Homo sapiens: one gene and its partners. The protein of the gene in region 1 interacts with the protein of each later gene in a pairwise test. Each region holds a gene or a part of one and is shown in the gene's direction. Other genes may lie near its edges.

Region 1 (3,500 bases):
CAAATTCAGTAATGAGTGCCCATCCCACCCAGCTCACCCCCCAACACCTCAAAAGGAAACAAAAGAATCATAGCTTTCCTGTTGGCAAGTCAGTCCTTGAAGCTTCTGATTCATTTCTTTCAGGTGGAGCTGATCAGAATAATGTTCAGCATCAACCCCCTGGAGAACCTGAAGGTGTACATCAGCAGTCGGCCTCCCCTGGTGGTCTTCATGATCAGCGTAAGCGCCATGGCCATAGCTTTCCTGACCCTGGGCTACTTCTTCAAAATCAAGGAGATTAAATCCCCAGAAATGGCAGAGGTATAGTATGCTCTGACTTCTCCCGGGCTGGCTGGTCCTTGTGCAGTGGGGCAACACCCTGTGGCTTGCCATATAGCTTTCTTGGGTTTTGGCCTTTCTCTCCTAGTGAGAAAAATCAGTATTTATTCAGAATTTTCTGTTTTCCATCTCCCCAGGACTCACTTTGTTAGGAAATACCTAGATGGGTATTGTTCGATTTAAATATGCTACCAGTTTCAGTTAGACTATTTTAGCAGTGAAACATGCACTTTGGAGAGTACATTTGTAAAATGATCTGTGTCAAAAAGCTGGAGACCTCACCTCTGTAATATTCCATCTCAAATGGGTTCATTGCTGTTTTAGAAAACTGAACATTTGGTATTTTAAAACCACATATCATCATGGAGTTTTATCAGCTATACTAATGGTTTTTTTCATGAGATAAGAAGGAATCCTAAAGAAATTCAAAAACAGGACCTAATTTCCAAATATATTTGTTTTTTGTTTTTTGAGACGGAGTCTCGCTCCGTCACCTAGTCTGGAGTGCAGTGGCGTACTCTCAGCTCACTGCAACTTCCACCTCCCGGGCTCAAGCGATTCTCCTGCCTCAGCCTCCTGAGTAGCTGGGATTACAGGTGCCTGCCACCACGTCTGGCTAATTTTTGTCTTTTTAGTAGAGACGGGGTTTCGCCACGTTGGCCAGGCTGGTCTCGAACTCCTGACCTCAGGTGATCCACCCATCTCGGCCTCCCCAAGTGCTGGGATTACCGGTGTGAGCCACCGCATCCAGCCTAATTCCTGTCTTTTAGTAGATTCCTTGGGTGCCTTCTCTTATTCTATTTCCTTCTTCTTGGGTTTGTTGGTGGGTGGAGGTGGGGGTGGGAGTGGGGCTGGGAGTGCGTGGTTGCCGCATTGAGTGTGCCTTGCAATGGAGAGGAGAGTTGTGTTCCATGTAATTGAGATCGTAGCTTTCTCTCATGCTCTAGGGCATTCTAGATCTTAAGTGATCTTGGCAAAAGGAACCGCCTACACATGTGAGCTCTTTCTAGCACAGTTCAAGTAACGAGTTTTAGCTATTTCTACCATGTAACCCTTTCAAAGAGTTTATTACTAAGAGACATACTGGCTGGCTTAATTCTCTCTCTTTTCTGACCCTGCCTCAATCTTTAAAGGTTGTGAAAACAGGCTGCCCCCACATCAGGGCTGAAAATGAATATTCTACTCAAAACTAAAGCTGCACAGCCTCCTGCCATTTCTTTCCCGCAGAGCTTGAGTCCATGTTGAGCACTTGGCCAAGGCCAGTGGTTGCACTGAAGCCTGGATAATTAGCCCTTAATAATCCAAATTAGGCCTGGCATTGGCTTTAGCCAGCTGTTCAACGTGGACTCCAGCTCTGTAGGAACGCATTGTTGAGATGCTGCGGAACTTTGGTTATGATTAGTTTCGTGATTTTTGTTTTCAAATGAGGATCCTAGGTTGTAGGAAAGGCAGTGGTGTATGGGAAACATTTGGGGCTGTGAATCAGAACTTAATGCTGATTTTACCTTGAACTAGAATTGGAGAGTCCCTAATTTGCCCTGGGCCTCAGTTTCTTCATGTCTAGGATTATGAAGGACTGAGACTAGAATGTTCATTTTCAACCCTAATGTACTAGAATGGTCAGTTGAGTTTGTAGGTGTTAGGGAAAATGTAATTTGATAGATCCAGTTGCAGTCTTACTAAATGTCACATACAGTTAAACTGATGCTGTAAGGGTAGACTTACTGGGCTGGGTAGGGGTTGCTCAGATGACTTTTTTTTTTTTTTGAGGTGGAGTGTCACTCTGACACCCAGGCTGAGGCTGGACTTCAGTGGCGCGATCTTGGCTCACTTCAGCCTCTGCCCCCCTTCAAACGATTTTCGTGCCTCAGCCTTCCAAGTAGCTGGGATTACAGGCATGCGCCACCATGTCCAGCTAATTTTTGTATTTTTAGTAGAGACAAGGTTTCACCATGTTATCCATGCTGGTCTCGAACTCCTGGCCTCAAGTGATCCACCCTGCTTGGCCTCCCAAAGTGCTGGGATTACAGGCGTGAACTACCGTACCTGGCCTCAGATGGCTTTTTTTTTTTTTTTTTTTGAGACAGAGTCTCACTGTGTCGCCCAGGGTGGAGTGCAGTGGCACGATCTCCTCTCACTGCAACCTCCACCTCCCAGGTTCAAGCGATTCTCCTGCCTCAGCCTCCCAAGTAGGTGGGATTACAGGCACACACCACCACACCCGGCTAATTATTGTATTTTTAGTAGAGACGTGGTTTCACCATGTTGCTCAGGCTGGTCTCGAACTCCTGACCTCAAATGATCCACCCACCTTGGCCTCCCAAAGTGCTGGGATTACAGGTGCGAGCCACCGTACCTGGCCCCTTCCTTTTTGAAATCGTTGCTGCTCTAAGGTGTCATCAAAAGTCCATAAGAAGGGGGGCAGTGTCCCAAATGAGTATTAGTATTCACTGCTGTTTTGTGTTCTAGAGAAAGAGAGCAAGGTGTATGGAATTGACCTTTTGGGACATTATTTTAAGGTGACTTTATTTAAAGAAAAGAATTGTAGTTGCAAAATGAGTTTGGATTAATGCTTTTCTTCAAGCGTTCTTTTCAAGTTTGGTTCTGAGGCTAGATCATTTTCTCTAAGTGTAATATGCTGGATTTTTTAAAAAGATTTTCTTGAATAAATTGATTTGATTTCACAGTTTATTGAGTATCTTGTGCCAGTGAAGAGTTCATATTTTAGGTTGTGAATATAAAAGTGATTAGGAAAGCCACATCATGCTGCCTGTGAAGAGGGTGGTGGCCGAGTTGTCATGATCTTAAATGATCAGCTCTGAATTGTAGTTTGCTGATGTGCTGCGGTGCCACACTGGGGTCTTACCTGTATTCCCGCAGTGGGAGACAGGCGCTGCTTAACACCCATTTCTCTTTCTTTCACTTTCCCAAAGGATTGGAATACTTTTCTGCTACGGTTCAATGATTTGGACTTGTGTGTATCAGAGAATGAAACCCTCAAGCATCTCACAAACGACACCACAACTCCGGAAAGTACAATGACCAGCGGGCAGGCCCGAGCTTCCACCCAGTCCCCCCAGGCCCTGGAGGACTCGGGCCCGGTGAATATCTCAGTCTCAATCACCCTAACCCTGGACCCACTGAAACCCTTCGGAGGGTATTCCCGCAACGTCACCCATCTG
Region 2 (3,554 bases), on another chromosome or scaffold:
GACTCATTTGGCATTGAACCTCAGCTTTACTACTAGTCTAGTGACTTTGGACAAGTTAATCTACCACAGTTGCCTCATCAGTAAAATGGGGCTAGTAATATTACCTACCTCATAGTTGTAAGGATTAAATAAGTTAATTCACAAGAAGGACTTAGAACAGTGCCTTGCATGTTATTATTATTCTTGTCCTTACACCGGAGGTTGAAAACTGGTGGGCTGACTTTGACCTAAATTTGTCTTCCAGATAGGTTCTATTTGGCTTACATAGATGTCAGCCCACACATGGTGTTTAAAACATTTTTTTCACTTAGTTGAAAATCAGGCTATTTTATATAAAAATCCAGATTTCTGGCTTCTCTTGAATAATGGAATGACTGACTGATTCCAGGCCAACCTTCTAGCATGATAAGATTTGCCTAGATGCAAGTAGCTACTGCCCCCCTTTAGCTAGAACATGTATGCTTCAGGGTGTCATGATCCCCACCAATTCCTAGGATCCCCTAGTGACAATTGCCATCGATCATCAAGCTCATACTCAGTCAGCTTCACTCTTGACATTACCCGCCAGGTTCTTCTAGGCGTCTGGTATCATAACCCTTGCTTCACACTTATCTCGTCACTTCTGACCACTATGCTGCCGTCCTAATTGTCCCTACCCTCCCAAATAACCTAAGGCCAGGACAACCCAGTGACAACTCACTGCTGTCCTCTCCCCACAGTGCCCTGGGCTTGCTGTACTTCATCCGGCGAGGAAAGCAGTGTCTGGATTTCACTGTCACTGTCCATTTCTTTCACCTCCTGGGCTGCTGGTTCTACAGCTCCCGTTTCCCCTCGGCGCTGACCTGGTGGCTGGTCCAAGCCGTGTGCATTGCACTCATGGCTGTCATCGGGGAGTACCTGTGCATGCGGACGGAGCTCAAGGAGATACCCCTCAACTCAGCCCCTAAATCCAATGTCTAGAATCAGGCCCTTTGGACATCCTGCTGACACTTGGGCCCCTTAACACCTTGGGCTGCTCAGACCCTCCAGATGAGGTCCAGCCCAGATCTGAGAGGAACCCTGGAAATGTGAAGTCTCTGTTGGTTTGGGAGAGATAGTGAGGGCCTGTCAAAGAAGGCAGGTAGCAGTCAGCATGACAGCTGCAAGAATGACCTCTGTCTGTTGAAGCCTTGGTATCTGAGAGGTCAGGAAGGGGACCTCTTTGAGGGTAATAACAGAATTGGAACCATGCCACTCTTGAGCCACAATACCTGTCACCAGCCTGTTGTTTTAAGAGAGAAAAAAAATCAAGGATATCTGATTGGAGCAAACCACTTCTTTAGTCATCTGTCTTACCCCCCTGGGACAGCTGTTACCTTTGCAGTGTTGCCGAATCACAGCAGTTACCTTTGCAGTGTTGCCGAATCACAGCAGTTCTGTTGGAGAAACGCTTGGTTTCCGGATCCAGAGCCACAGAAAGAAATGTAGGTGTGAAGTATTAGGCTGCTGTCAGGGAGAGGATGGCAGATGGAGGCATCAAGCACAAGGAAAATGCACAACCTGTGCCCTGTTATACACACGTTCATGTGCACCCAAGAACCTATGACTTTCTTCCAGTTCCTTCTACCAGGTCCCCATCCTGCTGCCAGCTCTCAACATAGCAGGCCATAGGACCCAGAGAAGAATCCCAGCGTTGCTCAAAGTCTAACCATCATAAAGACACTGCCTGTCTTCTAGGAATGACCAGGCACCCAGCTCCCACTGGACTCCAATTTTTTTTCCTGCCTTATTTAGAATTCTTTGGCGGGAAGGGTATGATGGGTTCCCAGAGACAAGAAGCCCAACCTTCTGGCCTGGGCTGTGCTGATAGTGCTGAGGGAGATAGGAATTTGCTGCTAAGATTTTTCTTTGGGGTGGAGTTTCCTCTGTGAGGGGCTTGCAGCTATCCTTCCTGTGTATACAAATACAGTATTTTCCATGGTTCTGCCTGCACTTACTTTGTAATGCCACGGTTGAGATTGAGAGAGATCAGCGCAGCCAGGCAAGGGAACTTTAAAGAATTATTAGGCCACCTTCTCCCTTTCCTGGACCCCAGAGTCATTCCTCCATTTGGTTAAAATACTCAGTGCAGGGAACTCTTACATCCTGTCTCCTTCACTTGCAGCGTCCCCTGCTATGCCTCAGGTGAACCACATAATTCTTGGGTTTCCGTTCCTACTTGCTAGTGATTTCTGAACATGTTCAATGGAGCGGCACACAGTCTAGACCCACTTCCGCATTGAAACCTTCACTGTTCCTCTTTGGTTTCTTCAGAGCTTTCCCAAGAGAGCTGTCAGTTTTCAGCTGTCAGTAACACAAATGAGTTTATGGTAACACAAATGAGTTTTGCTATCTCTCTGAGAAGCTCATCTGACCTCCTGACTCTCAGCCCTACAGAGTAGGGAGTTGATGCTGACAGGATGAAGATTTAGGAATAAATATGCCTGGGAAGAGACTGGGAAGGTTCTAGGGTGAGGCACCTCAGTAACTCATGGTACCTTGGCCAAGTTGGAAGGAAGCAGTTTGTTAATGAGGCACAGTAATCCTGGCTGCAGGGTCTAGGAGGTAAGACCAGCTGGGATGACCTTCCCTGGGTTAATCAATTTCCCTCTAGACAACACAAACTGCAGGCATGTGACTAACTTTGAAAGAACACCCATCATGTGGCTGCTGTCACCCTTGACCAGCCGTGGTGGTGGTTACTCCATCTGTGGTTGGAGCGCCTCTTTGGGATTCACTTCAAGGTCTTGTGCCTATTTTTCTGCATATCTTCTGTGATGACAAATCTCTGTCCCCTGAGTGTTAATTTGATTTTTAGAAATGGCCAAAAGTCACGTGATCCAAACTTTTTTTCAGTAATATGGAGACTGAGCTGCATGGTAGTTGGGGATCAAAAATATGTGACCTTAATGAGATTTTTATGATTTCTAAAGTAACAATAAAAGCAGTTTTTAGAGTTGAGTTCCAGAGAGGGCAGGGCAATGGCAGTGACATGTTTGTCATTTTAATAATAAATAACATCTATTGAGTGCTTAAGAGGTGTCCAGCAGTGTGGGCTGAGTGCTTTATGTCTCTTTTCAAAATCTTCACAAGAACCCTCTGAAGTAAGAAGTAACGTCATCTGTATCTTACAGATGAGGGAGCTGTAAGGAACTTACCCAAGGTGACTTTTTAGGAGCTGGCAGAGCCAGGATTTGGGCTCTAATAGTGATATTAATAAGCTCATTTTGAAGAGGTCAGTAGTTAGGGATGTATAAGTTCTGACTGGCTAAACAGTCTGGTTAAATAGTTTATCACCTTATAATCATATCTTCTTGTCCTGTCAATTTTTTTAAATACCGAGGATGAATAGTACTTTATAAACATTACTAGCTTTCTAAGAAAAGCTGATATGCAGTACATTAAATATAGCCAGAGATTTCCTTTTTTTTTTTTTTTTTTTTTTTTGAGGCAGGGTCTTACTCTGTCACCCAGGCTGGAGTGCACTGGTGTGATCTTGGCTCATCATAGCCTCAACCTCCCAGGCTCAATGATCC
Region 3 (3,500 bases), on another chromosome or scaffold:
TGAAGTTATGTGCAAAATGTTGGATGTGTGTTTATATGCATTTTTCTGGGGAGAGGAGTCTTTGGCATTTATCTGATTCTTTTAGGGATTTATGATCCTGAAAACATGAAGTCCTTAGGAAAACGGAAGTGGGGAGGGGTCTGCTGAACTATTACAGGGCAGTTCAAAGCAGGGTGAGCACCCTTCCCCCACATCTGACCCACCTCGCCGGTCTCAGGTGCTGCGTTGCCAGCTCTCTGCTGAGGAGGTGCGGTTCCCAGTCTCTGTGACCCAGCAGTCCCCCGCTGCCGTCTCCATGGAGACCTACCACGTCACTCTGACACTGCCACCAACACAGGTAGAAGGGGATGTGGGAAACTGAGTTGGGCAGGGGCGGTTCCATTGGCTCAGCTTCTTCCATTTGTTTCCTCTCTGGGATGGAATTCAGGAAGGGAGAGTCCTCGAATTAGGAGTCCTTGGGTAAATGGGGCAAGTCAGCCCAGTCACTTTGTTCCTGTCTGTAGTTGGAAGTCAACCTGGAGGAAATCCCTGGTGAGGGGCTGCTCATATCCTGGGCCTTCACTGATCGCCCAGATCTCAGCCTAACGGTGCTTCCCAAGCTTCAGGCCAGGGAGGTAAGGAGGCAGAGCTGGCAGAGAAGAGGCAGAACGGGGAGGGAGGCAGAGGTGGGGGATCCACCTCCTTGTTGTTCCCTTCTTCTCTCTGCAGAGAGGTGAAGAACAAGTGGAGCTCTCCACAATTGAGGAACTGATCAAGGATGCCATAGTCAGCACCCAGCCAGCCATGATGGTCAACCTCAGGGCTTGCTCTGCCCCAGGAGGCCTGGTGAGTTGGCACCCAAAGCAAAAGATTTGCATGCACCTTGTTCCTAGGGTGCTATGTCAGGATTCTTGCTCTTTGGACCTTCTTCTGCTCTTAGGTACCCAGTGAGAAGCCACCCATGATGCCCCAGGCTCAGCCAGCCATCCCCAGACCTAACCGGTTATTCCTACGGCAGCTTCGGGCATCTCACTTGGGAAATGAGCTGGAAGGTGAGAGCTGGAAGTGGCTGCGGGACTGCCAAGGCTATGGTTGGTTGCAGATGCTCTCTGCCCCTCTGCCAAGGGTACAGCCTCTTTATTCTGCAGTGACTTCCCATCTCTGATCTGAGCATCTTCTAACTTCTGGTTCATCACAGGCACCGAGGAACTGTGCTGTGTAGCTGAACTCGACAACCCCATGCAGCAGAAGTGGACCAAGCCCGCGAGGGCTGGATCCGAGGTGGAGTGGACAGAAGACCTGGCACTGTAAGGAGTAACCCTGCCCCGACCCCATGCTCCAGAGCAGAGAGGATCAAACCTTTCCAGCACAGTCCTTGCAGGAATCAGCTCTGTTTTCAGTAGCCTTTGGCGTGAGCTCCTATTGTATGCCAGGCCCTGGCGTGGGTCTTAGGGATACAGACTTGACCAAGATACAGCCCCCACCCCTGGGTCAATGACAAGCTTGAGGCAGAGACAGGTGTACATAAAGAAGATGGTAAAACCGCTCCAGTTGAGGTTTATGTAATGTGCCGTCAGAGTGCCTAGGTGGGGGGGAGATTAATTCCCATGAGGGAATAAGGATCAGAGTAGGCTTCATGGAGGAGATGACATTTAAACCACACTTTAGAGCAAGAGTAGGATTTCATCAGAGTGTGAAAGTATTCTCGGCAGAGGGAAGAGCTGGAGCAAATGAAAGAGGGTGGCTTGCAACTGAGAGACTGGCAAGACAGGAAGAGCAGGACCAGGGAGGATTTGAATGCATAGCTGAGAAGCATGGTTTCCACTCAGGCCCTGTCCCTTTCTCTTGGGACGAGAGAGAATTTGGAGGCCAGGAGAATCTGATTGGAGCATTTATGCCGTTTTATTTATGTACACAGCTCTCTGCCTCTGGCCTGTGATCCACTCAAGTGTGGGTTCAGCTTGCTAATTTTCTCCTTCCTGCCCCATCTCCTCTTGTCCCACAGGGATCTGGGCCCCCAGAGCCGGGAGCTGACCCTCAAAGTGCTGAGGAGCAGCAGCTGTGGAGACAGTAAGTGAGGGGTGGGAGGGGCACCCCTGGGTGGGTACAGAGTGGGGTCTGGCCATGGGCCCAGCTCACAGTGCCATCCCTTTCCCCAGCCGAACTCCTAGGCCAGGCCACACTGCCTGTGGGCTCCCCCTCCAGACCACTGTCTCGAAGACAGTTGTGCCCACTCACCCCAGGGCCAGGGAAAGCCCTGGGACCAGCAGCCACCATGGCAGTGGAGGTGAGAAGCTGACCCCTGGGGTAGGTGGGAGGACACAGGGGATGGGCAGTCTCCGAGGCTCTGTCTCTTCTCTCTCCCACCCCTGGGCAGCTTCACTATGAGGAGGGCTCTCCCCGGAACCTGGGTACTCCCACCTCCTCCACTCCACGCCCCAGCATCACACCTACCAAGAAGATTGAGCTTGACCGGACCATCATGCCCGATGGCACCATTGTCACCACAGTCACCACTGTCCAGTCCCGGCCCCGTATAGACGGCAAATTAGGTAAAGAGAAGGAGCCTGGGAGCCCAGCTCTAGCCAGGGGCCCGGGACTGCAGACCCAAGGCAGGACAGTGAAAGAGGAGAGAGCCTTAATTCCAACTCCCCCTGTTTTCAGACATTCCATTCCAGTCCTACCACATCTTCCTCCCAATCTTTGTCTCTTCCAAACTTTCCCTTACCTCCTGCCATTTCCCCAGCAATTCCTCTCACTCTGCCACCCTTCTGGATCCTCCTGCCCCTCCTCATACAGGACTGTTGCACTCCTACCTTCCAGCTTCCCCTCTGGCTTTTCACAGGTGTCCTTAGCCCCAGCTGACTATAATTGTCCATCCTGCTACCCTCAGCCCTCCAGCACCCCCTGGGGTCCTCCAACAAACCCAGAGGCCTCTGTGGCATTTCTACCCCACTCAGTGGGCCCCCATGGCACTTCTGCCATTATAGGGGCCCCACTGAATTGCCCCAACTTCAGGGAGCCCCAGTACCCCCTCTGTCCCCGCTCCATATTTTCATAGCATCTCCCCACACCTTCAGCAGGCCCCATGGCACTTTCCTACACTCCCATTAGCTCCTGGGGTGTCTTTTAGTCCCCACGGCATCTTCCTAATCACCCTTGTGATTAATCACCCTTTAATCATTCTTGCCCTCTGAGTCACCCAAAGTCTGCATCTCAACAAAGACAGTAGGGGTGGGGGCCACTCTGAAGCAACTCCCAGCTCACTGACCCTCCCCCACCCACCAGACTCCCCCTCCCGCTCCCCGTCCAAGGTGGAGGTGACCGAGAAGACGACAACTGTGCTGAGTGAGAGCAGTGGCCCCAGCAATACCTCCCATAGCAGCAGCCGTGAGTGGGGAATGGGGTGCATGAGTGTGGGTTGGCCCTGGTGCCCCAGCATCAAAAAGTACTCTGGGTGGGATAGGAGGAGTTCCAATCCAAGAAAGAGCCAGGGAGAAGTCAGGTTATTCATTCTCTGC
Region 4 (3,500 bases), on another chromosome or scaffold:
GCTGATTGACAAGTCAAGTAAGATGAAGACTAGGAGATGACCATTGGATTTAGTAATAGGAAGGTCCTTGGTGACCTTGCAAGAGCACTTTCAGGAGAATAGTGAGGAAGAAAACCTGATTGGTGTGGTTTCAAGAGACAACAGGAGGAAGAGCATTGGAGACTGCAGTATGGACAGCTCTTTGGAAGAGGTTAGCTGTAAATTTTTCATATGTCGGTTATTTGAAAGCACTGTAGTCGTTCCCATAGTAAATTTTTATTTCCAGCTTAAGCTACTGATTAATACCTACTACACTTGGATTGTTTTAATCAATGACTGGTGGAAATAAAATAGCTATCCTACTGCTGATCATAATAATAATGTATACTTAACTTTCTAAACCAATAAAGCGTGTCCTTTTTACGTAGTACATTTCAGAGCCCATAAAAATGCTTGGGTGGGCTGGGCGAAGTGGCTCATGCCTGTAATCCCAACACTTTGGGAGGCCGAGACTGGAGGATCTGTTGAGCTCAGGAGTTCAAGACCAGCCTGGACAACATAGGGAGAGCTCATCTCTACAAAAAACTTTAAAATTAGTTGGGCGTGCTAGCACACACCTGTGGTCCCAGCTACTTGGAAGGCTGAGGTGGAAGCATCTCATGGGCCTGGGAGATTGAGGCTTCAGTGAGCCATGATTGAGCCACTGCATAGTTTCAAATGTAGTAGGTGTATAAAAAGAATGCAATTTTTATCTTAAGGCATGAGTTCAGGTTCTTGTTTCTGCCCTCAGCAAGTTAATGTCCAAACCCAAATACAAAATAATCAAGGTACGCAGTAAAATACCAGATTTACACCATCCTGACTGGATAAATGTGCCTTTTCCATAGCAAATACAGCCATCTGTTGCATTGTAGATGTAAAATGATTAAAATATTTCAAAGTTTAGGGTTATAGCTACTGATTTTTTAAATCCAATAATTTTATCTAAAAGATAACAGGTCCTTTAGATGTGGAAATCTTTTTTTTTTTTTTTTTTTTTTTTTTTTTTTTTTTTTTTTAGCTGAGGAAAATATTAAGTTGGTGCCTTTTGTTTTGCTCTTGTTTTTTTCTCCAGGAATTTTTCATTGGTTGGCTCTCCTTTCTTGTTCTCATTGCTGTCATCTCACACATCCTTTCTAACTTTTTTCTTTTGCATAGCTTCTTAAGTTAGGCCCTTCCATCACTGATTTCCTTACTGCTTATAATTTGGATTTTAAATTTCTATTGTGTTTTTATTTAACTTATAGTCTTTTTTTTTTTAGTCCCAGTCCTCTTTAATACTGTTTTTTCCCCCACCCTGAGTTCTTAATTTTTTGTATGTCCCTGAGAGCACAGTATTTTTCTGGATTTTTTTCATTTTCTTATTGTAAGTAATTCTCAGTGGTGTGCTTTTCTTCATGTAGATCTAGTGCACCTCTTTGCTTCTGGTGTAGAATTTTTTCACTGACTCCATGTTGACTTTCTTTTGGTTTTTTTTTTATCCTTTAAAAATGAAAGAACTTCTGAGACTATAATATTGAATTTGTCATACTAGTACCATTCTACTGAAGGTTTTTTCTAGATTTCCTATAAGGAAAATAATTAGAGAACTGGGTTTTGTCTAGGCATTCTATAAAAGACACTATTGTGATGTTTGTAAAAGATTTCTATTTAAAATAACTTTCAGTACTATTAGAACTTAAGTTTATGGTTATGTCTCTGTGATAAGTACTTTTTTTTTTTTTTTGGAGATGGAGTCTCACTCTATCACCCAGGCTGGAGTGCAGTGGCACAATCTTGGCTCACTGCATCAAACGATTCTCCTGCCTCAGCCTCCTGAGTAGCTGGGACCACAGGCACACACCACCACACACAGCTAATTTTTGTATTTTTAGTGGAGATGGGGTTTCATCATGTTGGCCAGGCTGGTCTCTAACTCCTGACCTCAAGTGATCCACCTCAGCCTCTCAAACTGCTGAGATTACAGGCATGAGCCACTGCACCTGGCTAAGTACTTTTTTTTTCCTTGTGTTTTTTTGAGACAGGGTTTTGCTCTGTTGCTCAGGCTGGAGTGCAGTGGCACAATCATGGCTGAATGCACCCTCCACCTCCCAGGCTCGAGTGATCCTCCTGCCTCAGCCTTGAATATCTGGGACAACAGGCACGCACGCACCACCATGCAAGGTTTATTTTTAAATTTTTTTTGTAGAGATGGGGTTTCACACTATGTTGCCCAGGCTGGTCTGGAATCCTTAGGCTCAAGTGATCCTCTTGCTCCAGATTCCCTAAAGTGCTGGGACTATAGGTGTGAGTCACTGCACCCAGCCAAGTACTTTTTAAAATTAAACTGGTAAACAGACATTAGAATTACCAATGTAAACTTTATATCTAAAACCAAAATCAATTACAAAGGATCATTATTTTCCAAAGTAGATACTTTTTTTTAGTGCTGTTCAGTTTTTCTGAAGCTTATCTTTGTTCACAAGGATTGTTAGCACTTCCACCAAATCAGTGTTTAGAAACCTTAAATAATTTAACGTCTGACTTGCCAGTACATTATTAGAGAAACAATTCCAAGACCAAAACATGTTGAATAAGCAGGAGATATACACCAATTTGATTTTAAAATGGACAGCTTTCCTGTCTCTGGCTCTCTCTCATGTTGCCTTAAACACACATATGCTGAAGAAATCATATACAGATACTTGCATGCATTTAATAAACTATCCAATAAGTGGTGCTTTTAATAAATTCTGAATACAATCAATTAAAAGATTTGTGCACATTATTATTTAGGTATGGTACCAAGTAAATCAGAAACAAATGCAAGAGCACGAATGGTTTATTTAGCTACCTTTCCATATTGGGTCTTGATGACATTAGATACTCTGCTGTATTTTATTTTTTAAAGTAAACATATTAAAACTAGCCAAATAACCTATATTTTCTTTTATTACATTATGATGCCTTTTTTGGTTTGCCTGAGTTTTTTTGGTTTTTGTTTGTTTGTTTTTGAGATGGAGTTTTGCTCTGTCTCCCAGGCTGGAGTGCAGTGGTGCAACCTCAGCTCACTGTAGCTTCCGCCTCCTGGGTTGAAGCGATTCTCCTGTCTCAGCCTCCCAAGTAGCTGCGACTACAGGTACATGCCATCACACCCAGCTAATTTTTGTATTTTTAGTGGAGACGGGGTTTCACTATATTGGCCAGGCTGGTCTCAAACTCCTGACCTCAAGTGATCTGCTGTGGCCTCCCAAAGTGCTAGGATTACAGGCATGAGCCACCACACCCAGCCTGCGTAAGTTTAATTAAAAAAACAAAAATATTCTGAGTGTGACTTTGTTGAAACAGTTTATATAGGCATTTTAACTTTGGTGGCAGTTTTAGTCCTACTATCAGTCATCTTTTTTCCAGTAGCCCAGCATTGCTGCTACGTTAATTTAAATCTGCCCCTCTGCCCTCTCCTCAGTCTTTTGGCTGTATTTTGCCCATTGGCTGTTAATGCT
Region 5 (4,065 bases), on another chromosome or scaffold:
CTGGGGGGTTCATTGCCTTTCTTTGCAATGCCTTTGGTCTTAGCTTCATTTGTCCAAACTCCTCTCTCCCTTGGCTCTCCCCAGACCAGGCAAAGGCCAAGCTGGCTGGTCTCCCCACCTGTGGCCCTGAGGGCAGGACCTGGCATTCACCGTTTCTGCTAATGAGATCAAGACATGGCCTCTTCTAATTACTCCAGCCCTCACACAATCTTCCCCACATGCTCTCCACACCAGGGAGCAGCAGGGGGCAGGAAGAAGGGACCCTAACCTGGAGCATCCTGAGCAGACTGTTTCAGGGCGGGTCGGGAAAATGAAGGTTCGCCAATTCAAAGGTGGAGGGGAAAATGGTTCAGCCTTTGGGACTTGTATTTGGTGTGAAAGGAGTTGCTTGCCTCTGGGTCACAGCCCTGCATTCAGCTCCCTGACTTGCCTAGGAGTCAGGAAGAAACTTCTTGGTCTCAAGCCCAGTTAGGGGCAAGGCACTGGCTGGAAGGAAGGCCAGGGAAGGAAGGAGGTTGTCCACTAGAGGCAGCAGCCAGCCAGCCCAGCCCTTCTCTGGTGCCTGCCGGTGTGGTCCTCTCCCAGAGACTGGGGGGCCTTCATCTGCCCCATGAGGAAAAGAGGAGTGGAGGACCATGGAAAGGGATCCAGAAAAAGAAGGAAACACCAAGTCCCAGGGGCATGAGCTGGAAGGGAGGGCTGCTCCTCCCAGGGGAGGCTGGGGACTGAGAGCTGTCCCCAAGAGTGGAAAAGGAGGGAGCTGGGCAAGACCCAGCATTGTTAGTAACCAGCTCTGTGGTCTTGACTTGACCTCACTGATTCTCAGTCTCCTCACTTGGAAAAGGGCAAAACAGCCACGTGCAGGCCGTGGTGGGCACCCGGGCTGTCTGCAGATAGCTTGGCTCATTGTTGGTCCTCAGTACGCAGCCCTCGTAGCCAAGCAGCTTGGGCCTACACTCTGGGCCCAGGGGAGTGGCTGTCGCTGGCATCCCCTGGAATAACATGCTCCGGGGGTCAAAGATTCCTTAGCTGGAAAGGTCTAGGAGGAGACTCCCGCTCTGCTCCCTCCTGCACCAGCGCTGTGCCCCCCGCCGGCCAGGCAGAGCCATCCGATGCCGCTGGGCCGCCCACTGAGGATCTGCTGGCTGCAGCGAGTGGAAGGACCTGCTCGGCTGGAACGTTTTTTTTTTTTTTCCCTCCCAGGCGACGTCCGATGGGTGTGTCGGGCAGGAGGTGATATTTGACAGGCTGCGCGCGGGCGAGCTGCCGCGGAGCACCCGGCAGGGGCTGACAGCATGGCCTCGCCCGACCCGCCCGCCACCAGCTACGCCCCGTCCGACGTGCCCTCGGGGGTCGCGCTGTTCCTCACCATCCCTTTCGCCTTCTTCCTGCCCGAGCTGGTGAGTGCGGCACCCCCGACCCGGGCCACCTGCAGAGAGGGAGGGGGAGACCGGCCTCGGACCCAGACCGGACCGAGAAGAGAGAGACCCAGACCGGACCGAGAAGAGAGAGGGGCAGCAAGCACAGGGGCCACCTGCAGAGAGGGGGGGGGAGACCGGCCTCGGACCCAGACCGGACCGCGCCGAGAGAGACCCAGACCGGACCGAGAGCGGGGAGCGAGCACAGGGGCTGCGGTGGCTGCCAGCCTCCCACCGGGCGCACAGCGGGGCGCAGCTGTACTCAAGAGGCAGATGCCACTCGGTGCCCCGTCTTATGCCGCCAAGGGGGTTCCTCCCTCCAAAACAAAACCCACTTGAGTGTGGAGGCCTGGGGGGACGTCGCTAAAATATCCAGGCTTCCCAGGGAGATGTTGCACATGAATTTTAATTACGCGGCTTCTTTTGTCCAACTATTTGTGCCTTTCTGGTTTGAAGTGAGGAGACTGTGTTTCCCTCTGAGAGTAGGTCTTCCAGTGTTTTCTTAATTGTCACGTCCGCTGACTTTGAACTTTGACTTTTGTGGGGTCTCCCACACCAGGTAGCTATGGCAACATCTGCCATAAAACAGTCGTGTGCGGCACCCTGGTTGCAAATGAGAACCTGTCGCTGTGTTACTCTCTGGGGCGCCCTACGACTGAGTCGTGGCCCTGATCCCTGGGGATCCTGCCTGCTCCCATCTGCAGAGCTGTGCGTATGCAGCGTTCCGCACTGCACAAGTTCCCTCGGAACTGGCTGGTACCACATCCTCTTCACGGAGGAGCACAGTCAAGCCTGGGGTCCAATCAAGGCAAAGGAGTGTTTTCTTTTTCCAGCACCTTCTGAAGTATCTAGCTTGTGGGTGGTATTTTCTTACCTGCCCTGAATTTGGCAGTGCTGTCCCTGAGCAGGGGGGAAAAGATAGAAAGTGCATCTACTTTTCAGCCCTTCTCATTCTCGTCTTCTGCTTGCAAAGTTGGGCCCCCTCAAGCCACTTTTAGGCAAACTGGCGAACGGGTTAGCCATTGATGGCGACCAGAAAGAGAATCAGGCAGGGTGGGCCTAGGATCTGAGTGGCTCCAGCTGAAACCCCACCTAAGAGGCAGGTTTCTGCCAAGGCTACCATCCCCAGCACAGCGTGGGCATCCTGCCAGACTGATGACATAACCGTGCTCTGATGAGTCCTACGTGCCAGGCCCTGGGTGTGCCCCTCACCTTGGAGCAGCTGCATGGGTGGCTGGGGTACTGGTTGACTCTGCCTCTTTTTATTGAGCCTGTGGTTCATGTCAGTCCTGCAAGCCCCTGGTGACAGGGCACTGCCTCCTGGTGGTTTCCTGTCTGCCGGGAAGAGACTCATGAGCATTTCCTCCCAACAAGTGGATGGTGGCCTCAGCAAGGAGGGACCATCTGAACTCTCCAGGCCAAGGAGGGGTCCAGGCCTGCCACCAAGAGTTGGACCTCAAAGAACAGGCATTTACAGGCTGGGGGGAAAGAGAGGGAAAGGCCTAGAGGCCAGGGGAGAAGTCCTGGAAGGAGGCTAGAGGCACGGAGTTTCTGGAACCAGGACAGCACCCAGGGTGAGAAACATGAGAGGTCATGTTGGCCGCACCTGCCCTGCTCCTGCCAGTGAAACTCCTGGAAGAGCAAAGTGCACGCTGGTGTTGGGCTCTGGGGCCTTACGTGTTGTGGGGGGTGAGGGGCTCAATGACAATCAAAATTCACATTGGCCCAATTTTCTTCATTTATTTGTACTGTTAAGTAACGTGAGATTTACAGTAAAGCTGCAATAATAGTAGAGAAAGTTCTGTGTACTCTTCCCTCAGCTGCTGGTAATGCCTGCATCTTCCGTGGTACAACTCTTGAAATCAGGAAACTAACACTGATACTGTGCTATCAAGTACTCTATAAACCTTACTCCAGTTTTGCTAATTTTCTCACTAATGTCCTTTTTCTGGTCCAGGATCCCACATGGCACTTAGTTGCCGTATCTCCTTCATCTCCTTTAATTTGGGAAAATCTGGGTCCTTATCTTGACACTTCTGAAGAGTACTGATTAGGTTTTTTTCTTTTTTTGTGCTTTTGAAAAATTTATTTTTCCATAAATTATTGGGGTACAGGTGGTATTTGGTTACATTAGTAAGTTCTTTAGTGGTGATTTGTAAGATTTTGGTGCACTCATCATCCATGTATACACTGCACTACATTTGTAGTCTTTTTTTTTTTTTTTTTTTTTTTTTGAGACAGAGTCTCGCTGTCGTCCAGGCTGGAGTGCAGTGGCGCGATCTTGGCTCACTGCAAGCTCCACCTCCCGGGTTCATGCCATTCTCCTGCCTCAGCCTCCCGAGTAGCTGGGACTACAGGTGCCCCCACCATGCCCAGCTAATTTTTTTTTTGTATTTTTAGTAGAGACGGGGTTTCACTGTGTTAGCCAGGATGGTCTAACTCCTGACCTCGTGATCCGCCTGCCTCGGCCTCCCAAAGTGCTGAGATTACAGGCGTGAGCCACCGTGCCTGGCCCATATTTGTAGTCTTTTATCCCTCACTCCTCTCCCACTCTTCTCCCCAAGTCCCCAAAGTCCACTGTATCATTCTTATGCCTTTGTGTCCTTATAGCTTAGCTCCCACATATCAGTGAGAACATACGATGTTT
Region 6 (3,500 bases), on another chromosome or scaffold:
TTCCAGAATTTGTAGTACTTCTGTAAACTTGGTAACCTAAAGCACTTGAGTAAATCAGTGACTCGCAAACTTTTTGTCCTCCAGACACTTAAACTCTTTTTTTGTTATTATACTTTAAGTTCTGGGAAACATGTGTAGAATGTACAGGTTTGTTACATAGGTATATATACATGTGCCATGGTGGTTTGCTGCACCCATCAACCCTTCATCTACATTAGGTATTTCTCCTAATGCTATCCCTCCCCTAGTCCCCCACCTCCCTAAACTCTTAAAAAAGTGCTGAGAACTCCAAAGAGCTTTTGTCCATTGATATATACTTAACCACTGCAGCTATGATATCAGCATGTCACAAAGCCTCTGGAAAGCCACTTGTGAGAAAATTAGAAGAAAAATGGCAAATATCTCTGAGAGGCGGTGAATAGTTAAGTGAATAGTTAAGTTAGACATGTTTAGTTAGGAATAATAATGACTATGTTTTTCTAACCTTTATTAATTTTTTTAACAGGATTATCTACTATCTAGATCCATCTGTTCTGTCCGGCGTTTCCTGTTTTGTTATGTTTTTGTGCTTGGCTGACTACCTTGTTCCCATTCTAGCGCCTAGAATTTTTGGCTCCAATAAATGGTAGGTAGCATAATGATTTGGCAGTCTCATTTTTGTGTAGTTACTGAACTTGGTGGCTGTGATTAGTATGCTGTAAATAAGCAGAGATAATTGTCTAACCATCAGACACCTAAGCATTAGATTTATTGCTTTTATGTGAAGAATATTGTAACTGATTTGAATATAAACTATGAATTTTCTGTACTCCATAGTTCTTTTATGGTAAATGCACATATACATTTTTACATTTCCATTGATATTTAGGATAGTATAATAACTTCACAAATTATTTTTGAATGAATACAGAAAAGGAAACTGGCAGATTTTCATTCACATTCATTTAGCAATTATTTATTAAATGCCTACTGTGGCAGGCCCTGTAAAGTACTGTGAAATATTTTGACTTTTAAGATTGATCTTGTGTTAAGGCTGAGATACTGAGACACTGAGGCAGTGGAATGGCAGTTAACAAAGTGAATACCAAGTGTTTCCGAAGAGGTTCAAGCTGTATACACATGGGTTGCTGATTTTATTTATACCATTCTCTTTTTTTTTTTTTTTTTTGAGATGGAGGCTCGCTCTGTTGCCCAGGCTGGAGTGCAGTACGCTCTTGGCTCACTGCATGCTCCACCTCCCAGGTTCATGCCATTCTCTTGCCTCAGCCTCCCGAGTAGCTGGGACTACAGGTGCCCACCACCACACCTGGCTAATTTTTTTTTTTTTTATTTTTAGTAGAGACGGGGTTTCACCATGTTAGCCAGGATGGTCTCGATCTCCTGACCTTGTGATCCGCCCGCCTCGGCCTCCCAAAGTGCTGAGATTACAGGCGTGAGCCACCGTGCCCGGCCTATTTATACCATGAGGTTGCTTATGAACTCCTCAGATATAGTTAAGTGGATAAGGATCATATTAAAAGTATTTTAACTTTCTCTAGCATGTTGAGTTTTGATTCAAATAATCAGCCAAAATAGAAGTTGGAATAGATATTTTCTTCTCAGCTGCTATTCTATCCTTGGCTGTTTATTTTATTTGGTTAGTATTCTACTTGTGCCTTTGGTTGTTTGTATCTCAGAGGATAGCAAATTGCAAAATAATTCTGTAAATATAAGAATTTTAAATGTGTACCTTATGGATCTTTAAGAACAAATTCAAAGTTTGCTTAAATTATGATATAATTGACAATATTTAAAGGTGTTTCCCCCAACAGCAGAATGGATTAGTGTTAGGAACTGTCCAAATTGTTTTTCACTTGCAGTAATGAATCAATGTTGTTGGCTCTTTTGGGCAAGTTTCTGAATGTGCAGTATAACAGAGTTAGCAAAGGAAATAAATCACTGACCTTGGCCTTATTAGCCAGATAACATTCCAGTCTGCTAATTTATAACTCCTAGAGGAAAGTTTGCAGAAATAACCACTGATAGTTTCGTGATGTGACTCAGTTATTGATAGAGCAGATTTTGTTTATTTTTTGATCTTACAAGGAAGAAAGAATACTCTTTTGCATAGCCACAATCTAGCCTTGACCATGGGCAAGAAATAACATCTCATTGTTGAAAAGAAGTTCCAGGGCTCAGCAGAAATCCTTGTACTTTATCTATCACTGCAGTTTTACAGAGATGAGGGCTAGAGAAGAGAAGGCAACACATCCCTCAGCACAGGGCAATAATAGCAGCCATTATAGCTGTGTAGCGAAGACAGTGCAAAGGCAATTAAAAAAATCAGAACCAAGAAAAACATTATAAATATAAAAGGTTTTCTTGGAGGGTCTCTTGTTGGATTTTTACTGCTGTGTTGTTTGTTGATTATATTTTCCCTCCCTAGGGATAAATTTACAAAGAAGAATTTAGATTTGAGCTGTTTATTGCTGCCTTGTCATCAGATGTATGAAGCCCAGTTGGGGGTGTTATGTGTTAAATGCCAGTAGTTAGTATCTTACTAAGGAGTGTTCAAATACAGTTGTTCGGTGGGATTCTGGTAGGTATAGTGCAGCATTTACTAGGATCTAAAGAATATTTAGGAATAGCAAAATCAAATTTATACTGATTTCTTTATGGCCCATAGAAGTCATGAGTCTTTTACTACCATTAAATAAATGTGGCTTCAGAGCCAGAGATGATCCTTTCTTTATCACACGCACACACACACACACTCTCTCTCTCACACACATAGTTTATGTAAATACTTACTCCTGTGCTATAAAAGGTGTCTTAATGGTGGAAGGATTTTTTCACCTACATAAGATAATGGTGAAACATTGTTTTTATTTTTATTTTCTTTAGAAGATAGCTCTTAAATTGAACAGGGTGTCATGTTTTTGTCTACTGTAACGATTTGTTTATAGCAAAAGGCAAATTTCTTTTCTAGGACCACTGAACAACAGCAAAGATTCCATGAAATTTGCAGCAATCTAGTAAAAACTCGACGCAGAGCTGTGGGTTGGTGGAAACGCCTCTTCACACTAAAGGAAGAAAAACCTAAGATGGTACTTTTTTTGCTTTGACTTAAGTACAGTAAAATTTTAAGATTTGAGTCAATTCGCCTTTTTGTCTTAATAGCTATAATTTGAAAATTATTCATTGGTTAATTCCTAAGTACATTCATAAATGTTTACCTGTATTAATTAGACTGAATCATTTTAAAGTTAAAAATTACATTTTTGCATTTAATTTTTTATTCTAATAAAACAAAATTCTTCTGTTTCATTTTTCTTACTGAAATAATAGTAAAAGACATATACTTAGAAAGCATCTGTTTAGGCCGGGCACAGTGGCTAATGCCTATAATCCCAGCTACATGGAAGGCTGAGGATCACTTGAGCCCTGGAGGTCGAGGCTGCAGTGAGCTGTGTTTGCGCAGTGAGCTGTTTGCACCACTGCACTCCAGCCTTTGTGACAGA
Region 7 (3,500 bases), on another chromosome or scaffold:
CCTTGCCCACTGTCTTCTGTCTCCTTATCTTGCCAAAGGTGGAGACCAGGAGACCTCAAGCCCATTCTCAGGCAGCACCAAGAGTTAGAATCAGTCTGGCTTGAGGGTGAGCATCAGGATGACGCTCTATATTCACGGAAAATGTCTTTCTGTCTTTCTTTTTTCTTTTCTTTCTTTTTTCTTTCTTTCTTTCTTTCTTTCTTTTCTTAGATGGGGTCTCACTATATTTTGTAGGCTGGAGTGCAGTGGTTATTCACAGGCACAATACAGCCTCCAACTCCTGGGCTCAAGCGATCCTTCTGCCTCAGTCTCCAGAGTAGCTAGGATGACAGGCATGTGGCACTGCTCCTAGCTTCAGGGAAAATTTCTATTCCTAATCTTGATTTTCCACTCAAGGTGACCTGAAAGTCTCCTGAAATCAAAAGTTATTTTAATAAGAGTGCCAGCTTTAAGAGAAATGACTGCTGCAGATCATCACTATGCTTCAGGAAGAATCACCGTGGGAACAGTGGGAGACAAAGCTTGGAAGCCCTGGCCCAGGGTTAAGATGAAGAGTACTTCCAATAGAACTGACATTCAGAGTTAGCTACAATCAGTGTAGGGGTTAGGGTTGGAATCTGGGGTCCGATTTGGTTGATGTTAGAGCAAGGCTAAATTCAGCATGTTTGGCTTGGGTGGAATTTATGGTAGGGCTAGAGTTGGATTTTGAGAACTTTTAGGCTGAGTAGAAAGAGTAGGTGCTTGAGGGGACCTGGGTTTGAATCTAGGCTGCACTATTCACTCATGGGGCCTTAAGCATGTCTTCTGCTTTCTTGAACCCTGATTTCTCACTGGGGCCAGGGATGGCTGTAAATCCTGGCTAGAGCCTGGCTGGGAGATGTGAGGTTTACAGGGGATGAAGTGGGGGTGGAGAGAGGAAGTGATTTTCCAGCCACTGACCACATTCTGGTGAATGGCAGTGGTTGCAGGTGACCAGTGAGGTTGGGATTCAGTTTGCACCAGGATGACTGTTAGGACTAGGGGTGCTGGAGCTGGGGTTGTTGTTAGGATTAGTGGGGACAGGATTGGAGCTGAGACTGGGTTTAGCCTTAGCATTGAGTTTGGGGAGAGGGCTGTAGTGTATGTTTCGATGAAGTTGGGATTTGGAGCCTGGGTTGGAAAGTGTTGGATAGTACTAAAGTTGAATTTGGGGAGTCATGGTTGGGGATTGATGTGGGCATTAGGTTTTTGGAGATGTCTGGGCTTTAAGGCTGGGATTACATTTGGCATTTAGGGTTGGGGTTTGATGTTGGAGTTTAGGAGTAAGACTTTGTTGTCATCTCTCATTTAGAAAAATGATTGGGGTCAAGGCAGGATTTAGTATTGGGTTAAGGATTGGAAGGGCTAATGGTGGTCTTAGCTCTGGCATTTGGGTTCCATGTTAGGGTGAATGTTGAGGTCACATCAGGGTAACACACTAGTCCAACCTTCTCTTCCTTCCCTCCCCCATCCTAGCCCCCTTTCGCCCAGCTGACACCCACAATGAGGTCCGCTTTGACCGCTTTGGTGATGGTATTGGCCGCTACAACATCTTCACCTATCTGCGTGCAGGCAGTGGGCGCTATCGCTACCAGAAGGTGGGCTACTGGGCAGAAGGCTTGACTCTGGACACCAGCCTCATCCCATGGGCCTCACCCTCAGCCGGCCCCCTGCCCGCCTCTCGCTGCAGTGAGCCCTGCCTCCAGAATGAGGTGAAGAGTGTGCAGCCGGGCGAAGTCTGCTGCTGGCTCTGCATTCCGTGCCAGCCCTATGAGTACCGATTGGACGAATTCACTTGCGCTGATTGTGGCCTGGGCTACTGGCCCAATGCCAGCCTGACTGGCTGCTTCGAACTGCCCCAGGAGTACATCCGCTGGGGCGATGCCTGGGCTGTGGGACCTGTCACCATCGCCTGCCTCGGTGCCCTGGCCACCCTCTTTGTGCTGGGTGTCTTTGTGCGGCACAATGCCACACCAGTGGTCAAGGCCTCAGGTCGGGAGCTCTGCTACATCCTGCTGGGTGGTGTCTTCCTCTGCTACTGCATGACCTTCATCTTCATTGCCAAGCCATCCACGGCAGTGTGTACCTTACGGCGTCTTGGTTTGGGCACTGCCTTCTCTGTCTGCTACTCAGCCCTGCTCACCAAGACCAACCGCATTGCACGCATCTTCGGTGGGGCCCGGGAGGGTGCCCAGCGGCCACGCTTCATCAGTCCTGCCTCACAGGTGGCCATCTGCCTGGCACTTATCTCGGGCCAGCTGCTCATCGTGGTCGCCTGGCTGGTGGTGGAGGCACCGGGCACAGGCAAGGAGACAGCCCCCGAACGGCGGGAGGTGGTGACACTGCGCTGCAACCACCGCGATGCAAGTATGTTGGGCTCGCTGGCCTACAATGTGCTCCTCATCGCGCTCTGCACGCTTTATGCCTTCAAGACTCGCAAGTGCCCCGAAAACTTCAACGAGGCCAAGTTCATTGGCTTCACCATGTACACCACCTGCATCATCTGGCTGGCATTCCTGCCCATCTTCTATGTCACCTCCAGTGACTACCGGGTGAGCTACCTGCCACAGAGGTCGGGGGAGATGGGACACCAGACCCTCTGTTTCCTGGTATCTTATTTAATCTACTGGTAGCTCTGGGGTTCCAAGAGGATAATGCCCACTCAGGGGACCACAGCTTGTGTGGATCCCAAGGGGAAGGTGGGAGGGCTGAATAGGACCTAGGGAAATGGCCAGGGAGGTGGGGAACTCGAGTTAGAGAGAGCTGAGATTTCAGGACTTGAATGTCATCCCCTATCCTGGAAGGTGATGGGGGTGCAGAAATATGTTCAAATGGACAGGGTTCTGCCCTGCTCCACTGAGGGGTCATCTGCAGAAGGGGTTGAGAGATGAAGCCAGGGAAGGCAGGAAAGATGAAGCAAGGTGGGTAGGGGAGGAGATCCAGGGTATAGAGTTGAGAAAAGCTAAAGCAGGTGAAAATTGTTCCCCAGTTGGTGGCTTCTGAGCAAATTTGGTTCCAACTGGCACTGTGTCTCAATGGGTCTCCCCAGCTCCAAGGGGCAATGGCTGCTTCAGATAGGGTGGTCAGGGAAGCCCTCTCTGAGGAGGTGACAGATGAGCTATGTTCTGAGTAAGAAGATTATCTTGGTTAATCTTCATAACTTGAGTAAGCTCCATGGCTCTCCCGTTTTACAGATGAAGAAACAGAGACTCAGGGAGGTTCAATCCCTTGCCCAAGGTCACTCAGCTTGGGAGTGCAGAGCAGGGTCTGAACTGCAGAAAAATTGAGGCGAAAGCCCCGGCAAAGGCCCCTTCCCCAGGACAGAGGTGTGGTGGCACAGTGCTGGGGGCCAGGGACCGCTGGGCTTGGCTGCTCTGCTTGCACCTGCTGGGCCACCTGCTTGGGTGGTAGAGGCCAGGGCTGGGGAGGGATTCTGCTCTGACTCAGCCTGCATTTGCATATGATTTGCATTTGCATGCCAA

Evidence for each region.
Region 2: the proteins of TMEM248 (region 1) and SYS1 interact in binary tests that used the Homo sapiens proteins (3 or more experiments, as listed by UniProt).
Region 3: the proteins of TMEM248 (region 1) and C2CD2L interact in binary tests that used the Homo sapiens proteins (3 or more experiments, as listed by UniProt).
Region 4: the proteins of TMEM248 (region 1) and ANKRD46 interact in binary tests that used the Homo sapiens proteins (3 or more experiments, as listed by UniProt).
Region 5: the proteins of TMEM248 (region 1) and MALL interact in binary tests that used the Homo sapiens proteins (3 or more experiments, as listed by UniProt).
Region 6: the proteins of TMEM248 (region 1) and ARL6IP1 interact in binary tests that used the Homo sapiens proteins (3 or more experiments, as listed by UniProt).
Region 7: the proteins of TMEM248 (region 1) and GRM2 interact in binary tests that used the Homo sapiens proteins (3 or more experiments, as listed by UniProt).

What each region holds. Positions count from the first base shown.
Region 1 is NC_000007.14:66,941,725-66,945,224, forward strand, and holds part of TMEM248 (transmembrane protein 248), read left to right. Parts: intron 1-123; coding exon of another isoform or gene 124-141; coding exon 142-300; intron 301-3,251; coding exon 3,252-3,500.
Region 2 is NC_000020.11:45,366,156-45,369,709, forward strand, and holds the end of SYS1 (protein SYS1 homolog), read left to right. Parts: intron 1-719; coding exon 720-960; 3' UTR 961-3,054; downstream 3,055-3,554. UniProt on the Homo sapiens protein: Involved in protein trafficking. May serve as a receptor for ARFRP1.
Region 3 is NC_000011.10:119,110,344-119,113,843, forward strand, and holds part of C2CD2L (phospholipid transfer protein C2CD2L), read left to right. Parts: intron 1-217; coding exon 218-337; intron 338-503; coding exon 504-614; intron 615-708; coding exon 709-825; intron 826-919; coding exon 920-1,031; intron 1,032-1,177; coding exon 1,178-1,286; intron 1,287-1,984; coding exon 1,985-2,049; intron 2,050-2,138; coding exon 2,139-2,266; intron 2,267-2,356; coding exon 2,357-2,531; intron 2,532-3,267; coding exon 3,268-3,369; intron 3,370-3,500.
Region 4 is NC_000008.11:100,553,260-100,556,759, reverse strand, and holds part of ANKRD46 (ankyrin repeat domain-containing protein 46), read left to right. Parts: intron 1-3,500.
Region 5 is NC_000002.12:110,113,023-110,117,087, reverse strand, and holds the start of MALL (MAL-like protein), read left to right. Parts: upstream 1-1,265; 5' UTR 1,266-1,295; coding exon 1,296-1,400; intron 1,401-4,065.
Region 6 is NC_000016.10:18,795,050-18,798,549, reverse strand, and holds part of ARL6IP1 (ADP-ribosylation factor-like protein 6-interacting protein 1), read left to right. Parts: intron 1-505; coding exon 506-625; intron 626-2,968; coding exon 2,969-3,086; intron 3,087-3,500. UniProt on the Homo sapiens protein: Positively regulates SLC1A1/EAAC1-mediated glutamate transport by increasing its affinity for glutamate in a PKC activity-dependent manner.
Region 7 is NC_000003.12:51,713,568-51,717,067, forward strand, and holds part of GRM2 (metabotropic glutamate receptor 2 isoform a precursor), read left to right. Parts: intron 1-396; coding exon of another isoform or gene 397-416; exon of another isoform or gene 417-457; coding exon of another isoform or gene 458-554; exon of another isoform or gene 555-1,494; coding exon 1,495-2,570; intron 2,571-3,500. UniProt on the Homo sapiens protein: Dimeric G protein-coupled receptor which is activated by the excitatory neurotransmitter L-glutamate. Plays critical roles in modulating synaptic transmission and neuronal excitability.